Linked DNA regions of Homo sapiens. The protein of the gene in region 2 purifies or fractionates together with the protein of the main gene of each other region. This does not show direct contact. Each region holds a gene or a part of one and is shown on either strand. Other genes may lie near its edges.

Region 1 (4,968 bases), on a different chromosome or scaffold from region 2:
CTTTCCCTGGTGACAGTTATGTATGCTGTGTTTTAACCCCCCTGTTCAAGTGTGTGTTACCTGAGAAGCATCTCTGTGTTCCCCAGAGCCTAACAGTGTACCCTCTACATAGTTGGCAGTCAGAAAAATATTTCTCAAATGATTGAATTACAGCTGAGCGGAAATTTAGAGATGGTGACCATAAATATATGGGAATGCAGTAGATAAAATCTTGGCCCAGAAACTCCTAGGAAGTATTTTTGTTTGAACTTAGCCTTTGCTGCTCTGACGATTCACACCGACCCAAAGGGTATTGTGTGACCAGTGACTTCCCTCCATGCACCTGGGCCTCCAGGAGAGGAGTTGCTCATTAGCCCTTTAGCCCGAGGTGGTATCAGATATGAAACAATTACTCCTATAGACACTGGAGGAGACTGTGCAGACACCACTGCAGCCTGGGGACTCTTCCCAACCTGCACCCCCTTCCCCAACTGCAGAGCCCCTTCTCTGCCTTCTGCCACTGGCACCCTTGTCCTGCTTTATGCTTGCTCTGAGCTGTGGGAACCTCTGCCAGTGAATTGGAGCTGAGGGTTAGAATTTAATTTAGAATAGAAGGGTGAAAATTGGTTCTGTTTACATCAACTGGTTAAGTACTATGCTGAACCTTGATAAGCAGACAAGTAAGAGACAGCCTTTTTTTTTTTTCAAGGAATTCATAAAGGAAATTTAAAAATTATAGTGATGACATTAAGAGTAGAAGTATTTGTAGGCCGGGTGCGGTGGCTCACGCCTGTAATCCCAGCACTTTGGGAGGCCGAGGCGGGCAGATCACGAGGTCAGGAGATCAAGACCATCCTGGCTAACACGGTGAAACCCCATCTCTACTAAAAATACAAAAAATTAGCCAGGCATAGTGGCGGGTGCCTGTAGTCGGGAGGCTGAGGCAGGAGAATGGCGTGAACCTGGGAGGCGGAGCTTGCAGTGAGCCAGGATCGTGCCACTGCACTCCAGCCTGGGTGATAGAGCGAGACTGTCTCAAAAAAAAAAAAAAAAAAAAGAGTAGAAGTATTTGCAGTGTATAGAAATACCAGCCTGAGGAGGGGCCATCAGGGAAGGCTTGCCAGAGATGGATTTTAAAGGATGAATAGGAGTTTTCCAGACAGGTAAAGGGGTTCGTTGTTTGAGAGGGCTGGGCTTTTGACAAATCTTTCATGGTGGCTAGTATTGATTTTCACTCCCAGTAGACAAGCCTTCCATTATGGCATAATGTGAAATAGAAGCCAGAAAAACAGGATGGTTTTGAACTGCAGTGGCAAACTTTAGGTTAGGATATTGGACCCGTGTGAATTTTTTTTTTTTTTTAGATGGAGTTTTGCTTTCGTTGCCCAGGCTGGAGTGCAATGGCACCATCTTGGCTCACCACAACCTCTGCCTCCCGGGTTCAAGCGATTCTCCTGCCTCAGCCTCCCAAGTAGCTAGGATTACAGGCATGTGCCACCACGCCTGGCTAATTTTGTATTTTTAGTAGAGACGGGGTTTCTCCATGTTAGTCAGGCTGGTCTTGAACCCCCGACCTCAGGTGATCTGCCTGCCTCGGCCTCCCAAAGTGCTGGGATTACAGGTATGAGCCGCCACACCCAGCCAGACCCACGTAATTTTTTAGTGGGGAAATGCTGCTGGCCTTGCATCTTCTTAACTTGTGCTTTGGAGGCCAGAGTGCTGATTCACTGGAAACTGATGATGGATGACTCTTGTCCTCTTTATCAGTGAGTGATTTGGCCTCAGGTATTTCTGTTTGAAGTTCTTTATTCTTTCTGGCCCAAACACTTGCCCTTAACCAGCTGTACTTGAGCTCAAGTCCAGCTTACTTGGACTGAGCTGTTACGTTCATCCCTGATTCATTCATTGAACAAATAGTTATTGAGTGCCTGTCATGTGCCAGCCCTGGGTACAGTGGTGACAAAAACCTGTGTCTTGGCTGGGAGCAGTGGTTCTAACCTGTAATCCCAGCACTTTGGGAGGCTGAGGCAGGTGGATTGCTTGAGTCCAGGAGTTTGAGACCAGCCTGGCCAATATGATGAAACCCCATCTCTACTAAAAATACAAAAATTAGCTGGGCATGGTGGTGCGTGCCTTGTAGGCCCAGCTACTTAGGAGGCTGAGGTGGGAGGATCACTTGAACCCAGAGGTGGATGTTACAGTGAGCCAAGATCACACCACTGTACTCTAGTCAGGGCGACAGAGTGAGACCCTGTCTCCAAAAAAACACCACAAAACCCTGTCTTCATGAAACTTACCTCCTAGTAATCTACACAGTAACCCTCATCCTCAAGTGCAGGTGTACATCTGGCTGGTAGCCACCCTGCCTGTCACTTGGCTTCTCTTCATCTCCCATCCTCCCACTCTGGCTGAGTTGATCTCTAAATCTCTACTTTCCCATCAGGCTGCTCATGGCCTGTCCCCAGCTTGCTTCAGCCTGTCTCTCTAACTTCACTCCCCAGTCCTCTCCTATGAGAACTTTCAGCTTCTCTTCCTTCCACATCTGGTCACTGCCCTTGCTCAGGCCCTTACTGGAATTCCCTTCCTCCTGTTTATCACATGGGTTGAACTGTACGTCATTAGGGTCCTCTCAGCCACCCAGCAAGTGTTTGGGCCAGAAACAAGAAAGAACTTTTCCCTCCTCTGAATTCAGACTGTCTTGCTGTCCACCACTGGGTTAGCCTGCACCACAGAGTGCACGCTGGTTTTTTTTTCTTTTTTTTTGGAGACAGAGTCTCGCTCTGTCACCCAGGCTGGGGTATAAATGGTGCAATCTTGGCTCACTGCAACCTCTGCCTCCTGGGTTCAAGCAGTTCTTGTGCCTCAGCCTCCCGAGTAGCTGGGATTACAGGGGTGTACCACCACGCCCAACCAATTTTTGTATTTTTAATAGAGATGGGGTTTCGCCGTGTTGGCTAGGCTGGTCTCGAACTCCTGACCTCAAGTGATCTGCCCACCTCGGTCTCCCAAAGTGTTGGGATTACAGGCATGAGCTACCGTGCCCAGCCCACAGTGCACACTCTTGTTGCCTTTTTTTTACTGTTCATTTTATTCACATCCGGGTAGAAGCCTGGTTTTTCAGGCTTATGGAATTTTTTCCCCTTCCAGATTTTCCATGGGATGGCTGGCTCTTGAAAAACTAGCTTGCACATGTATGTACATACACAGACACATACATAGAAAGGTAAATAAGAGGACTAGAGGCCTAAAAGGCCTCTGGCTGCTCAGCAGTGAGGGGCATGGGACATTGCCTGTTACCTGTGGTGGTGACCTGTCTTATCTCTTGTCACAGATTTGGAGTCACCCAGTTGCCTGAGCCTGTCTGTTCACTTGTATTTGCAGCGGAACAGCTCCAGGCACAGATGACCTGGATTGTCCATTATTCTCTGACTTGAATCTCATACACCAGAGGCCTATATCCATTTCAGTTAGAGTTTAGACCAGATTCTTTCCTTTACTCAGGACGTAATAAAATATTTGTATATAGGGAGTGCTTAACAAGCATTGGTTGAATGACCTAGTCTAGTTCTAGGACCTTCTGGGAGAGGTAACCTGAGTCTTCCTCACTGTGTTGTTCAGACAGGCAAGGGGCCATTCAGAAAAGATGTGGGAACGAGGCCTTGAGTATTATTGTAGGGATTAGACAAGGGGAGGATGAAGGTATGTTTTTATCCCCAGTACTCTTGGCCTATGGCGGTTTTCTTTCAGGCTTGCTGACATGGACCAAGGAGCTGAAGATTTCACTTGGCAATACGCCATTCTCTGAATATAATTAGTCTCATTTGAAATTTAGTAGCTGAACATATACTGTATTAATTAACAATACTGGTCAGGCACGTTGGCTCATGCCTGTCATCCCAGCACTTTGGGAGGCCAAGGCAGGAGGATCAGTCAAGACCAGGAGTTTGAGACTAACCTGGGCAACAAAGCAAGACCCTGTCTCTACAAAAAAAAAAAAAAAAAAAGAAAGGTCAGGCGTGGTGTGGTGGCACACACCTGTAGTCCCTGCTACTCAGGAGGCTGAGGTGGGGGGTATGGCTTAAGCCCAGGAGGTCGAGGCTGTGGTGAACCAAGATCTCGCCACTCCAGCCTGGGTGTCAGAGACCCTGTCTCAAAAAAAAAAAAAAAAAGTTTGTTTCTTAGAGTAGCCCAAGGAATGCCCTACATTTGAGTCAACTCTGGAACTGGAGAAAAAAGAAACATAATGTAACTGGTGAATAAAGGTAAAACTAACACATGTGATGCCTTTTAATTGCCTTTTCTTCTTGTCTTATTGCTTTAATTAGCATGATGAAATTCCAAATGTTAAATTAAGAGCAAAGCATACATAGAAGAATGAGAACATACTAGTACAAGAGAAGGTGACACAGAGGGATTAATATTAGGTCTGGAGTCAGGAAATCTGTCTTGGGGTCCTAGCACTATCATTGCTTATCTGTGGTTTGCCCTTTCTCTAATCTGCAAAATCATGGCAGGACCAGGATGGTTGTTTCCAGTGATCTCACCTAGCTACAAAATTCTCTACTGTTTGGTGCTCAGTAAAATAGCAGAGTAGCATCATGGAAATAGCATAGCTATTGGAATCAGACCTTGGTTTAGGTCCCCTCTCATTCCTTTAATAGCTGAATGATCTTGAGCTGTCACAAAGATTACATAACTAATGTAGTCCTCACTTTTCTTACCTGAAACATGGAACTAATAATATACCTCATAAGCTTCTGAGAATCAAAATTAATGCTTCTAAGTTCTTTTTTATTTTTATTTTTTTAGAGATGGGGTCTTGCTGTAACACCCAGGCTGGAGTGCAAAGGCACGATCTTGGCACACTGCAGCCTCTGCCTCCAGGTCTCAAGTGGTCCGTCCACCTCATCCTCCTGAATAGCTGGGACCACAGGCACGCACCACTCTGCTAATTTTGCTTATTTTTTTTTAGAGATAAGGTCTCACTGT
Region 2 (4,968 bases):
ACATTTAATATTGTCAGAATTTTAAAGTTTTGACAGGCTGATAATGTGTTACATTTCTCATTGTGCATTTAATTCACCTTTCACAGATTACTAAAAGTAATTCTTTTAATATGTTTTTGGTAATTTGAATTTCTTCTTTTGTGTTCAAGTCTCTTATCCATTTTTCTCTTGAAGTCTTTGTTTGTATGTTGATTGTGTGTGTGTACAATATATGTGTTTTGAATTTTAACCATTTGCTGGTGATAGTTATTGCTAATATAGTCTCATTCTGAGACCTGTCTTTTCATTCTCACTGTAGTGTCTTTTTATGAATTCTTTAACATGGTCCAATTTGTTAGTTTTTTCCTTTACAGTTGATGCTTTTTGTGTTATGTTTAAGACATTTCTTCCTAATGTGTGATCATGAAGATAATCTTCTATATTATCTTCTAAAAGCTTTATGATTTTGCTTTTCTTTAACAATTAGATCTATAATCTACCTAGAATAGATGTTTGTAAATGGTATGAGGTAGGGGTCCAGTTTCATTTTTTTCCCCATATGGATACACAATTGTCCCAGAACTATTTGCTGGGAAGAAAAATAATTCCCCACTGCTCTGCAGTGCCCTGTTATGTAGCATGTGTCTGTTTCTGCATTCTCCGTTCTCTTCATTGATCTATTTGTCTATTCCTATACCAGTATCCCACTGTCTTAATTAGGAAAGAATTAAAATAAATTTCTGCTGCTTCTTCAACATAGTTTAGTAGTATTGTTGGCCCTTAGGGCTTCTATGTACATTTTCCAGTTAGCCTGGTTGAGTGCCACAAAAAATCTGTGTTTTTTTGGAGAGATTTCATTGAATTTATAAATCAGTTTTGGAAAAATTAACCTCTCTTTGATATTGAGTCTTCCCACCTGTGCATGTTTTATCTCTGTTTAGGTCTTTTTTACTATCTTAATAATGAGTTACAGTTTTTTTCCCTAGAAGTGGGAACACAAACTACTTCAAGGATGTTTTAAATACTTTGTTTTTCCTGTTAGAATTTCCTCCTTGTTTTTGTTGTGTACAACCTTTAGTAGCCTTCTGAGAAAGGATCCATGGAAAACATATTTTTTAAGAACTTGCCTGTCTAAATATGTCTTTATTATAAGGTCACAACTTAATATATATAATTCTAGTTCAAAAGTAAGTTTTTAAAGAATTTTTAAGATTTAGAATTTGTTAGTTTTGAAGACTTTCTTCCATTCATTATCTTTTGGCTGCAAGAGTTGCTGTTGAATGTCTGATGCCATTTGGCTTCCTGGATCCTTTGCCATCTTTTTCTCTTAATAGCCTTTAGGATTTTCTTTTATCCTCTGTTCGTGGTGATGTACTTTGATATAGGTCTTTTCTTCTTCTTTCGTTTTGCTGTGCTCTTGGTTGGTCCTTTCAATCCAAAGACTTATGTCCTTCAGTTCTGTGACATTTTCTTGTATTATTTATTTGACAGCCTCCACCCACCACTTCCCCCAATAATGACTCTTGCCATGGTCTTAAGATTCTTCATGTCCCTAAATTCAGGGGACACTTACCATCTTACTTGACCTGTCATTACCATTTGAGATACTTGGCCATTCTTTCCTTTAAAAAGTTCATCTTGGCCGGGCGCGGTGGCTCACGCTTGTAATCCCAGCACTTTGGGAGGCCGAGGCGGGTGGATCACGAGGTCAGGAGATCGAGACCATCCTGGCTAACACGGTGAAACCCCGTCTCTACTAAAAATACAAAAAAAAAATTAGCCGGGCGTGATGGCGGGCGCCTGTAGTCCCAGCTACTCGGGAGGCTGAGGCAGGAGAATGGCGTGAACCCGGGAGGCGGAGCTTGCAGTGAGCCGAGATTGCGCCACTGCACTCCCGCCTGGGCCACAGAGCGAGACTCCGTCTCAAAAAAAAAAAAAAAAAAAAAAAAAAGTTCATCTTTTGGCCTTTTTTTTTTTTTGAGATGGAGTCTCGCTCTGTCGCCCAGGCTGGAGTGCAGTGGCGCGATCTCGGCTCACTGCAAGCTCTGCCTCCCGGGTTCACGCCATTCTCCTGCCTCAGCCTCCCGAGTAGGTGGGACTACAGGTGCCTGCTACCACGCCCGGCTAATTTTTTCTATTTTTTTTTTTTTTTTTTTTTTTTAGTAGAGACAGGGTTTCACCATGTTGGCCAGGATGGTCGCGATCTCTTGACCTCATGATCCACCCGCCTCGGCCTCCCAAAGTGCTGGGATTACAGGTGTGAGCCATCTCACCTGGCCCGTCTTTTGGCTTTTAAGTCACCATACTCTTGATTTTCCTTCCACCTCTGTGTCTGTTCGTCACACTCCTTTGCTGGTTCTTCCTCTTTCTGACTTTAAGGTGTGGGAATTCCACAGGGCTTGGGTATAGGCCACCTTCTCCTTTTCTTAAGAGAACCGGTCTTCTCCCATGGCTTCAATTACCATCTAAGTGCAATTTCTATCTTTACCCTAAGACCTCCCTTTTGAACTCCAGATCCACACATCCAACTGTCTATTAGAGATTTCTGCTTGGATGTCTCACAGATACCTTAAACTGCAAGTCCAAAACATGAACTAATTCAGCTCATGATGTCAGTCACAAATTTGCTCCTTCTGTCTTCCCACTCAGTAATTACCACTTCCATCTACCAGTTGCATAGGCCAGAGACCTAGAGGTCATTTTTAACACCTGTTGCTGCCTTCCCCGCCAAACCTAATTAAACACCAAGGCCTGTTAATTCTACCTACTAAATATTTCTCAAAAATACTTCTTTCTTTCTTCACTGTCATTTCACTAGTCAAAGCTGCTATCATCTCTTAGACTACTGCAGTCTTATTGGTATGTTTTTGGGCTTCATATAATCATTTACATGATTCTTTTAATCCTGTAATCATTTAATATATTCCTTTGTGTTGGGCTTCTTTTGCCAAACATTATATGAATGAGTTTCATCCATGTTGTTGCATGTAGTAGTAATTTGATCTTTTTCTTTGCTTTATGGTATTTTATGAAATATTATAGTTTATCCATTCTGTAGTATTTGGATTGTTTTCACTTTTTGTATGTTAAAAATATGATTCACGGCCCGGTGCAGGGGCTCACGCCTGTAATCCCAGCACTTTGGGATGCCAAGGTGGGAGGGTCACTTGAGCCCAGGAGTTCAAGACCAGCCTGGGCAACATAGGGAGACCCCATCTTTATTTGTTTTATTATTATTATTTTTTCTTGAGACAGAGTCTCACCTCTGTCATCCAGGCCGGAGTGCAGTGGCGCGATCAACTCCCCAGGCTCAGGTGATCCTCCCACCCCAGCCTCCCAAGTAGCTGGGACTGTAGGCACCTGCTACCATGCCCAGCTAATTTTTATATTTTTTGTAGAGACGGGATTTTGCCATGTTGCCCAGGCTGGTCTCAAATTCTTAGGCTCAAGTGATCTGCCCACCTCGGCCTCCCAAATTGCTAAGATTACAGGTGTGAGCCACCATGTCCAGCCTTAAATTTTTTAAATTAAAAACCAAAAAATACGATTCATGAATATTCTTGTGCCTTTTGGTGCACATGTGCCATTATTTCTGTTGGATATATACCGGGAAGGAATTTTCTAGGTCATAGGTTATACATATCTTCCAAAGCGGTTGTACCAATTTACACTCCCATCAGTAGGGTATGGGAGTTTTCCCAGTTGCTCTGTGTCTTCACTTACACTTGGTATTGTTATTAATATTATCTTTAATGTTTTTTGTTAGCCATTCTGTTGAGTATAAGTGGTTTTATTTACATTTTCCTGATGACTAATGAAGTTGAGTGCCTTTTTATGTGCTTATTCAATATTTGGGTATCTTTTTTTGGTGGAATTCCTGGTTATTTGCCCAATTAAAAAAAAAAAGCTCTATTTTGAGGTATAATTTATATACCACAAAATTCACCCATATAATTTTGTGAGTTTTAGTAAATCTGTATAGTTTTGCAGCCATTACTACAATCCAGCTTTGGAAGCTTTCTGTCACCCCCCGAAAGTTCTCATGTGCCTATTTTGCAGTCTGTCTCTATTCCCACACCAAGCTCAAGATAGCCCTTACTTGCTTTCGGAATGGCTCTGTAATTTTGCCTTTTCTAGAATTTTTTAATAAGTGGAAACATACAATATGTATTCTTAATATGTATGGCTTTTTGCACTTAGCACAGGGTTTCTCAGTGTTGGCACTACAGCCGTTTTGGACAGGATAATCCTTTTTTGTGGAGGGCTGTCCTATGCACTGTAGGATGCATCCCTGACCCTACCCCTTTGTGACAACCTAAAATACTTCCAGACATTGCCAAATGTCTCCTGGATGGCAAAATCAGCACCACTGGTTGAGTGTAATTTTTCAGGATTCATCTGTGTTATTCATTTGTCTATTAAAATTTTTGGTTATTTATATTTTCCTTAATGATTTGTAGGATATGAGGTCCTTTTTCCACAATGTAGATTGCTTTTCATTTATTTAATTCTTTTTCCTGATCCATAGAGGTATTTTTAAATTAGAAAATAAATTTATTAGAAAACAAAGGTTGAAAATAAACAGAATGAACAAACTCTATTTTTGCTTGCCCCAAAACCTCAATAAAAACTGTTATCTGGCCAGGTGCAGTGACTCATGCCTGTAATCCCAGCACTTTATAAGTTTGAGGCAGTAGGATTGCTTGAGCCCAGGAATTCAAGAACAGCCTGGGCAACATAGCGAGACCCCATGTCTACGGAAAGTAGTAAAAAAACTTAGCTGGGCATGATGGCACTCACCTGTGGTCACAGCTGCTGGAGAGGCTGAAGTGGGAGGATCCCTTGAACTTGGTGGAGGCTGCAGTGAGCTGTGATTGTGCCACTGCACTCCAGCCTTGGTGACAGAGCAAGACCTCGTCTCAAACAACAACAGCAAACAACTATTATCTCTTAAAATTTTAATATTTTTTCATATAAGTTCTGCATTTC
Region 3 (4,968 bases), on a different chromosome or scaffold from region 2:
TTCTTGACTCTGTCATTCTTAGAGCTCTCATTGATATTGCACAGCAAAGTTCCCTTGCATATACAGCAAACATTTGTAGTCTTTGTGGTATATACCAAGAGGATTACCAACAGACGAGCCATTCTGGTGGTTAATGCAGTGGCCCTAGGTTGGAAAATCTGGGATCTGGTTATTGTTCAAGGCAACTTTGTTCCCCAGATAATAGAATTGTTTATTACTGTTAGCCATTGTTTCAGAGGTGATTCTGAAGCTACCAGTTTTGTTTGTTTTTCTGTTTGAGATGGAGTCTTGCTGTGTCGCTCAGTTTGGAGTGCAGTGGCACAATCTCAGTTCACTGCAACCTCCACCTTCTGGGTTCAAGTGATTCTCTTGCCTCAGCCTCCTGAGTAGCTGGGACTACAGGTGCACACCACCATACCCGGCTAATTTTTGTATTTTTTTAGTAGAGACAGGGTTTCACCATGTTGGCCAGGCTGGTCTCGAACTCCTGACTTCAAGTGATCCACCTGCCTCAGCCTCCCAAAGTGCTGGGATTACAGGCGTGAGTCACTGAGCCCAGCCTAGTTTGTTTTTTAACATCCAAATTACTTTATTTGTTGCCTGGATTTATATTCATACTGTTCTTTCTGTGTAAAAATGCCTCTACTCACTTTGCATATGCAGATCAAATGATCTCTTTCAAGTTGCATGCCTCCACCTCTCTCAAAAGATATAAGGCCCTCTTTACTTGATTTTCATGAACTTCCTTAAGCTGTGTAGTTTTTTTTACTTTGGTTTATTTGTGAATGCATCTCTTATCTCCACCTGGCTGTGAGTCCTGAAGGGTAGACACTATTTTTTTGTATCCTGGAAACAGACTGGCACACACTAGGCATATAATAAATGTTCATTGTATCGTTGTACCTATCTAGATTTCTAAGGTGAAAGGGAAGAACAACACACACTTATCATTACATTAATTTCACTTGAATCTTCTGTTTCTTCCACTTCAGTGCAAATACTTCTATAACTTCCTTGATGCCTTCCTTCCCACAGCATCTTTTTCTTGTCGTCTTTACTTCATTTATTCCATTCCTGATGTTCTTCCTTTCTTGAAAACGATCAGTTTCTGACCTATGTCATTTTTCTTCTCTCTGAAGAGATTATTTCGCATTTCTTGCAGACAGGTCTACTGGCAACAAATTCTCTCCATTTTCTTTTGTCTGAGTAAGTCTTTTCCTTCACTTTTGAAGGATAAGTTTATCGGATACAGGATTGTAGGTTGGTGATTTTTTTTTCTTTTAAAAATTTAAATATTAAATATCTCACTTCACTCCCTTCTTGCTTACATGGTTTCTGAAGAGAAGTCTTGGAAATCTCTCTCAATCTACTCTGGTTTGGGAGGGTGCCTATTAAAAACAAAAGAGAGAGAGATTTGATGTAATCTCATCCTTGTTCCTCTATAGGTAAAATTTTTCCCCTGTCTGGCTTCTTTCAAGATTTTATCTTTGATTTTCTGCAGTTTGTCTATGATATGACTGGTTGTAAATTGTTTAGTATTTATCTTATTTGGTCTTCTCTGAGTTCCTAGATCTGTGGTTTAGTGACTGTCATTAGTTTTGAAAAATTCTCAGCCCTTATTACTTCATTATCTTTTCTGTTGCTTGCTTTCTTCTTGTATTCTCCTTCTACATAGGTTACACCTTTGATAATTGTCCCACCTACTGACTTTTGAATTTTGGGCATGCACTCTCCCTTATTTCTGTGTTATGGGAAGGGGAATGGTTATTTTGTGCCCCCCACCCAGTAACCATCTGTTACTGTGGCAGGGCTTGTGATCTACATGTATTCACTTTCCTCTAGTCTCCAATTGTGTGGGGGAAGAATTCCTCTTCTTTCATCTAGCTCACATAAAGCTCATCTTCTGCTGAGTATTTGCAGCAAACAAAGCTCATCCAGAAACCAGATGGCATTTTCTTGTTTTATGCAGCAAAAAATGAGATCCAAGCCTGCAACTGGTGAGCCTCAGAAGGGGCAACCAGAGCCTGCAAAAGACCAGCAACAGAAGGCAGCTCAACACCACACAGAGGAACAAAGCAAGGTGCCCCCAGAGCAGAAGAGAAAGGCGGGCTCTACCTCATGGACCGGGTTCCAGACCAAGGCTGAAGTGGAGCAGGTGGAGCTGCCTGATGGAAAGAAGAGAAGAAAGGTCCTGGCGCTCCCCTCACACCGAGGCCCCAAAATCAGGTGAGATGCAGGAGGGCAGAAGCACAGAACAGTGGGTGGGTTCTAAGCGGGTTTGTTTTTGCTGAGTTATTTTCTCTTTGTGGCATTTGTTTGGTTGAAAAGGATGTTTGGTGCTATGTATTCCCACACATGGGGTTAACACGCGAGTCTTCAACACCATCAGAGATGTCACTCTTAGATCAATGGCAGAGGGGCCTCCTAGGGCAGGCTTTTGTGCCCCTTTTCTCCTCTTTTGAAGAGCTTCCTCTTGTCCAGATGGCCATCTCTGCCAGCTGAGACCACATACTTGAGGTTCAGTTGTAGTTTCTGTTTGGGACAGCAGATTAGTGCTCTACAAAAGTAAATCTTTACAAAATATTTGTTAAATAAATGAAGGTTTTTGAGATATCCATGGGGTTTTATTTATTTATTTATTTTATTTTTAGAGACAGTGTATTATTCAGTTCTTCCACTGCTATAAAGAAATACCTGAGACTGGGTAATTTATAAAGAAAAGAGGCTTGGCTGGGCGCGGTGGCTCACGCCTGTAATCCCAGCACTTTGGGAGGCCGAGGCGGGTGGATCACGAGGTCAGGAGATCGAGACCATCCTGGTTAACATGCTGAAACCCCGTCTCTACTAAAAATACAAAAAATTAGCTGGGTGCGGTGGCGGGCGCCTGTAGTCCCAGCTACTGGGGAGGCTGAGGCAGGAGAATGGCGTGAACCCGGGAGGCGGAGCTTGCAGTGAGCCGAGATCACGCCACTGCACTCTGGCCTGGGCGAAAGAGCGAGACTCCGTCTCAAAAAAAAAAAAGAAAAGAAAAGAGGCTTAATTGGCTCATGGTTCCACAGGCTGTACAGGAAGCATGACAGCAGCTGCTCATCTTCTAGGGAGGCCTCAGGAAACTTAATCATAGTGGAAGGTGAAGTGGGAGCTGGCACATCACATGGCCAGGAGCAGGGGGGAGTGTTTTAAACAACCAGATCTTGTGGTAACTCATTCACCGTCACGAGAACAGCACTGAGGGGATGGCGCTAAACCATTCATGAAGGAGTCATCCCCATGATCCAGTCACCTCCCACCAGGCCCAGCCTTCAACACTGGGGATTACAATTCAACGTGAGATTTGAGCAAGGACACAGATCCAAACCATGTCACAGGGTCTTGCTCTGTTGCCCAGGCTAGAGTGCAGTGGCATGATCATAGCGCACTGTAACCTCAACTCCTGGACTCAATCCACCTTCCTCAGCCTCCTGAGTAGCTGGGACTTTTTAATTTCGTTGTAGTAGAGACGGGGGATTGCTATGTTGCATAGGCTGGTCTCAAACTCCTGGCATCAAGCAGTCCTAAGTATACAAATGTTGAGCTTTCAGAGGGTCTGTTGCAGTATCCCTTTTTAGAATGACTTCACTTATCATGGGCTTGGGAAGGGCCAGTGTACAAAGAGAACCTAGGGGTGTCAAATTAGAAGAAGGACTCAAGGTGACACTCAGCCATGTTATTTCAGGTTGCGGGACAAAGGCAAAGTGAAGCCCGTCCATCCCAAAAAGCCAAAGCCACAGATAAACCAGTGGAAGCAGGAGAAGCAGCAATTATCGTCCGAGCAGGTGAGTTCTGCAGGACATACAGCTTTGGTATGGCATGGTTCTGCCAGGTCGTAGCCATGTTTGTACCTTGGTTAGTTGAGCAAAAAAGAAAAAAAGAAAGACTTCTGTGTAGGACGGTAGCTTTTTAGAGAATGTTGAGCTATACAATCTTAAAAGTGGAGAGAAAAAAGTAAAATGAACCTCCACGTATCTGTTCCTGTGTTTCAGCAGTCTCCTTGTTTTACATATTCCCCATAACATGCTTTCCCCACTAGAGTATATTAAAGCAAAGCCCATTTCACATGTAAATGCGTCTCATATGAAAATGAAACATATTGCTCAGAAAAACCTCAGAGTGCATCTCTAACTGATCAGGCCTTAAACACACACACCTTATGCCATTATAATATCTAATGAAACTAATAAGCCCTTTATCATCTACTACACAAATGATATATTAAATCCATATTAAAATTTGCCAAATTGCCTGAAAAAAATTTTTTTATACTTGGTTAGTATGAGTCGGGATCCAAAGTCCCACATTATACTTGGGTTTTTAATTTCTTAAATCATTTTTTTCTTCTCTAATATCCATTCTCCCTTACCACCCTTTTTTCCATGCTATTCATTTATTGGAGAAACCAGGTCATTTGTGTTACATTTTTAATTTAGCCATTTGCTTCTTTGTGGTGTCATTTAACTTGTCTCTGTGACACCCCCATATTGCCTGTCATCTGGTAGTTAGTTCGGTCTGGTAGCTTGATCAAGTTCAGTTTTCTTTTTTTAAAAATTTTTTTGAGGTGGAGTTTTGCTCTTGTTGCCTAGGCTGGAGTGCAATGGCGCAATCTCGGCTCACTGCAACCTCCGCCTCCAGGAGTAGCCTCCCGAGTAGCTGGAATTACAGGCATGCGCCACCATGCCCAGCTAATTTTGTATTTTAGTAGAGACGGGGTTTCACCATGTTGACCAGGCTGGCCTTGAACTCTTGACCTCAGGTGATTCGCCTGCCTCGGCCTCCCAAAGTGCTGGGATTACAGGTGTGAGCCACCGTGCTTGGCCTCAAGTTCAGTTTTCTTGAAGAGAGTATTTCATAGGTGGTGTGTGTGTTTCCTTATATCGCCTGAGGCACATACTACCTGGTTGCCCATTTTTAGTGATTCTGGGATTGATCAGT
Region 4 (4,552 bases), on a different chromosome or scaffold from region 2:
TTTTGAAAACACTCTTGGCTGCCCTAGTTGGTTAACTTCAGAATGTCTGGAATGGGACCAGAGATGCAGTTCACATGTTTTGTAAGTTCTTTAGGCGACTGAAGCACAGCTGCTTGGAGAACCACTGAGGGGTGGACACCTTCCCCTGGCAGCCACAAGGCAGGCAGCCTGCGGGAGCTCCTGAGCAGCTGTTGGGCGATGGTCATTACATCACCCATGCCTTTGTATTTAAATGAAACTCGACACATAGAACCAATTCAACCTGAAAGTTACTACTTCTGCTGATTCAGGCACTTGTTTGAAGCATTTTTTTTTTATTAACCCTGTACTTCTTCTTTGCCCACCATTAAAGTGGGGGAAAGTAATATCCCAAGTAGTTGAGTTGAGCTGTTGGTTGTTAGATTTAAGCTGGAATTAGTCCAGGGTTTTATGTGGGGAGGCAGTTGCTGTCTTGGGATACCCGGAGTGGGAGTGGGTGTTTTCTGTGATTGGTTCTGTTTTTTATTTTTACTTATTTATTTTGAGATGGAGTTTCATCCTTATTGCCCAGGCTGGAGGGCAATAGCACCGTCTCAGCTCACTGCAACCTCCGCCGCCCGTGTTTAAGCGATTCTCCTGCCTCAGCCTCCCATGTGGCTGGGATTACAGGTGCCCATCACCACACCCAGCTAATGTTTTTGTATTTTTAGTAAAGAGGGGGTTTCACCATGTTGGCCCGGCTGGTCTCGAACTCCTGATGGCAAGGTGATCTGCCTGCCTCAGCCTCCCAAAGTGCTGGGATTACAGGCATGAGCCACTGAGCCCGGCTGTTTTTTTGTGTTTTTTTTGTTGTTGTTTGTTTGTTTTTTTTTTTGAGACAGAGTCTTGCTCTGTCGCCCAGGCTGGAGTGCCAGTGGCGCGATTTCAGCTCACTCAGGAGTGAGCCACCACACCTGGCCTGTGATTGGCTCTATTTTGAGTGATTACGTGTAAATCATCTAGAACCAGCTCTGAGCAATGGCGTTGCGGTGTCCCTCCCTCCCCGCTGGGGCCATACCAGCCCCTCTCCACTGGGAGCCCAAGTTGCCAATGACTGTGGCCAAACTCCCCCATTTTTGTCTGTATCCTGCTCTCTTTAGGTTAAAAAGAAGGAAAGAAACATGAAAGGCCATGTACAATTTATTTTTACAACTCCAGGAGTTTCCCCGACTACCATTTTTTTTTTTTTTATTTGCCAGTGGTGTGCATGTAGAAGAGGAATGCCATGTCCTGTCCATAGAAATACACATGGTGGTCAGGCATGGTGGCTCATGCCTATAATCCCAGCACTTTGGGAGGCTGAGGTGGGAGGATTGCTTGAGCCCAGGAGTTTGAGACCAGCCTGGGCAACATGGCAAGACCTCTGACTCTATAAAAAAATTTTTTTTTTTTTTTTTTTTTGAGAGAGCGTCTCACTTCTCTGTCACCCAGGCTAGAGTAGTGTGATCTTGGCTTATTACAACTTCCGCCTCCCAGGTTCAAGAGATTCTCCTGCCTTAGCCTCCTAAGTAGCTGGGATTATAGGCACATGCCACCATGCCTGGCATATTTTTGTATTTTTAGTAGAAACAGTTTCACCATGTTGGCCAGGCTGGTCTTGAACTCCTGACCTCAAGTGATAAGCCTGCCTCAACCTCCCAAAGTGCTGGGACTACAGGGGTAAGCCACCGCGCCTGGCCCAAAATTTTGTTTTTTAATTAGCTGGGTACAATGATAGGCACCTGTAATCTCAGCTGCTTGGGAGGCTGAGGTGGGAGCATCACTTGAGCCCAGGAGTTTGAGGCTGCAGTAAGCTGTGTTTGTGCCACTGCACTCTGGCCTGGGCCAAAGAGCAAGACCCTGTCACACACACACACAAAAAAAAGAAATACAGGTGGTGTTTTGGGGAAGGGAAGGTTCTGCTGGGGTCCTGGAACTGTGACTGATGGCCTCAGGAGTCCAGGAATAGGCCTTCTAGCACAGCAGCTAGTAGGGCTCCCCCAAGCCATCCGCTGGCGTGTGGAGGTGCAGGACCTGGGGGAGGCAGTCCCCAACCCAGCTAGGCCAAGGGGTAGGGTTTTTAGGTCTGTTTTTAACAGAGCTCAGAGCACCAGGTGAAGGTGGAAAGTTGGCAGGAAAACAAGGTCAGCATCTTATTTTTTCTATACTCAGCAGAGTGTGCCATTCCCAGTTTCTGTCCTGAGGATTTCAAAGACCACAACAGCCACATTTCTTTCCATCTTCCCTCAGCCAGTAGTCATTTAAAATTCTTCAGTTGTTCTGAAGATCCTTTTTTTAATGTATCATTTTTACATGAAAGACAGCTGCAAAATGCAAGCCCCAGTAGAGTTGGAGAGTTTTTCAAGGTGAGAAGTCGCTGTTCTCTGCATTGAACATGGATTGAATTTTCCTTGTCTGATGGTAACCCATGGCCCCCGCCCTGCGGGGATAACATTCTCAGGAGCTTCTCTTGTCCTAGCCCCTTCTCATTTCAAAAATATTAGTCTTTTATTTTCCTTTTTCATTCAGTTTTTGTTTTACAGCTTTTGTAGAGACCAACCCAAGTAGATGCAGGTGGGTGTTAGATAAAAACACACATCCCCAGGGGACAAGCCATCCAGCGGTGAGGAATCTCTGCCATGTTCTCTTCCCTGCTGCCCACAAACGTTACGGAGACTCCCTTAGCCTCCCCCTCCTCTTCCCCACTGAGGGGCAGCTTGTGGAGATGGAGGACTCGGGCCCATAGATGCAGACCCCCTACCAAATCTAGCAATAGTTCTCACCCTTCCAAAGCTCGAGTGCCATTTTGAGATGACCTACCAATGACATGCAGTAAAGGACATAACCTCACAGCCTTTTTAGAAGCATTTCGAATATCTACAGTTGCCTCAATTCACGGGGCATTTCACTCCTCTGATCCAGGTTAGAATTTTGCTAAATCTGTAGCATCCTGAATAGCACACTAATTTTTTTTTTTAGCACACTAACTTTAACTACATTAGTTGAGTGTAGTTGATACATCTGTGGCCTCGTGTCTATAAAGAGCACACTAGATTGTACCCAGCACTTTTGGATATGACATGCTAATTAGATGTATTTAACTATTCATAGGAAAGTGTATGATAAATGACTGTAATATTTCTAATAAATATATTTTGTTTCTAATTATTTTTTTCTCACTGACATTTATCAATATTTTTTCAAAGTGCCACCCTTAAACTGAGTCTGTTTTCAGACCAGCATCTTCATGCATATATCCTTGTCGGGTCACAGTCTCCACTGCAGCTGCTCTTGCGGGTGGTGCTGGAATTTTCCACAGAGGACTGGGCTCCTGCTGGTTCCTCCGCTGCCCGTGTGCAGCTTTCTTGCTCAGGCCACAGGCTTACGTGAAGATCACCCTTCAAGGCCTACCCAGGACACTGCTGAGCTGTGCAGATGTGCACACGATATGTGCAATGTGTGACTAAATGCCAACTGAGACCCCAGAAACCACTCGCAGGGGGAATTATGCCAAGATTGAGGAGGCAGGGTGAAGATACTTTTTTTCTTTTTCTGGTTTTTTTTTTTTTTTGAGATGGAGTCTAGCCCTGTCGCCAGGCTGGAGTACAGTGGCACGATCTTGACTCACTGCAACCTCCGCCTCCCGGGTTCAAGCGATTCTTTTGTCTCAGCCTCCCGAGTAGCTGGGACTACAGGCACGTGCCACCACGCCCAACTAATTTTTGTATTTTTAGTAGAGAACAAGGGGTCACCATGTTAGCCAGGATGGTCTTGATCTCTTGACCTCATGATCTACCCGCCTCTGCCTCCCAAAGTGCTGGGATTACAGGTGGGAGCCACTGCGCCCGGCCACAGATATTTTGTAAATGATTGCTTCCTTACCCCTTCCTAGTTCATGTTTTCTTAAACATAGTTACATTTCTTCTTTGCTATACTAAAAATCCCTAATTTTAGTTGGTCAGAGAGAGGGATTTGAGACTGAGCTCCCATCTCCTCGGCTGCAGCATCTGATTAAAGCCTTCTTCCTTTGCAATACTCATCTCAGTGGTTGGCTTTCTGTGGGTGAGCAGCGCAGGATCTAGGCTGAAGCCCTGAGGCTTCAGTGACAAAATCTGTTTTTCATAATGCGATCTGTCTTAATTGTCCTCAAGAATTAGTATTTGAGTGCTCTCTAGATTCTTCTTTGTCACCCTTCCTTCCTTCCTTCCTTCCTTTCTTCCTTCTTTTCTTCTCTTTCCTTCGTTCTCTCCTGCCTTCTTTCTTTTTTTGAGACGGAGTCTTGCTCTGTCGCCCAGGCTGGAGTTTGGTGGCACGATATCAGCTCACTGCAACATCCACCTCCCGGGTTCAAGCGATTCTCCTGTCTCAGCCTCTGGAGTAGCTGGGACTACAGGCGCGCACCACCACGCCCAACTAATTTTTGTATTTTTAGTAGAGACAGGGTTTCACCATGTTGGCCAGGCTGGCCTCAAACTCCTGACCTCAAGTGATCTGCCCGCCTCAACCTCCCAAAGTGCTGGGATTACAGGTGTGAGCCACCGCGCCCGGCCGTCAC

Evidence for each region.
Region 1: the proteins of SLK (region 2) and PTPN23 purify together in Homo sapiens (affinity purification with mass spectrometry; one large-scale study listed by BioGRID and IntAct). This does not show direct contact.
Region 3: the proteins of SLK (region 2) and RBM28 purify together in Homo sapiens (affinity purification with mass spectrometry; one large-scale study listed by BioGRID and IntAct). This does not show direct contact.
Region 4: the proteins of SLK (region 2) and SPECC1 purify together in Homo sapiens (affinity purification with mass spectrometry, with the first as the bait; one large-scale study listed by BioGRID). This does not show direct contact.

Annotation. Positions count from the first base shown.
Region 1 is NC_000003.12:47,383,440-47,388,407, forward strand, and holds part of PTPN23 (tyrosine-protein phosphatase non-receptor type 23), read left to right. Parts: intron 1-4,968. UniProt on the Homo sapiens protein: Plays a role in sorting of endocytic ubiquitinated cargos into multivesicular bodies (MVBs) via its interaction with the ESCRT-I complex (endosomal sorting complex required for transport I), and possibly also other ESCRT complexes.
Region 2 is NC_000010.11:103,972,711-103,977,678, forward strand, and holds part of SLK (STE20-like serine/threonine-protein kinase), read left to right. Parts: intron 1-4,968. UniProt on the Homo sapiens protein: Mediates apoptosis and actin stress fiber dissolution.
Region 3 is NC_000007.14:128,312,022-128,316,989, reverse strand, and holds part of RBM28 (RNA-binding protein 28), read left to right. Parts: intron 1-1,969; coding exon 1,970-2,226; intron 2,227-3,715; coding exon 3,716-3,815; intron 3,816-4,968. UniProt on the Homo sapiens protein: Nucleolar component of the spliceosomal ribonucleoprotein complexes.
Region 4 is NC_000017.11:20,315,862-20,320,413, forward strand, and holds the end of SPECC1 (cytospin-B), read left to right. Parts: 3' UTR 1-3,165; downstream 3,166-4,552.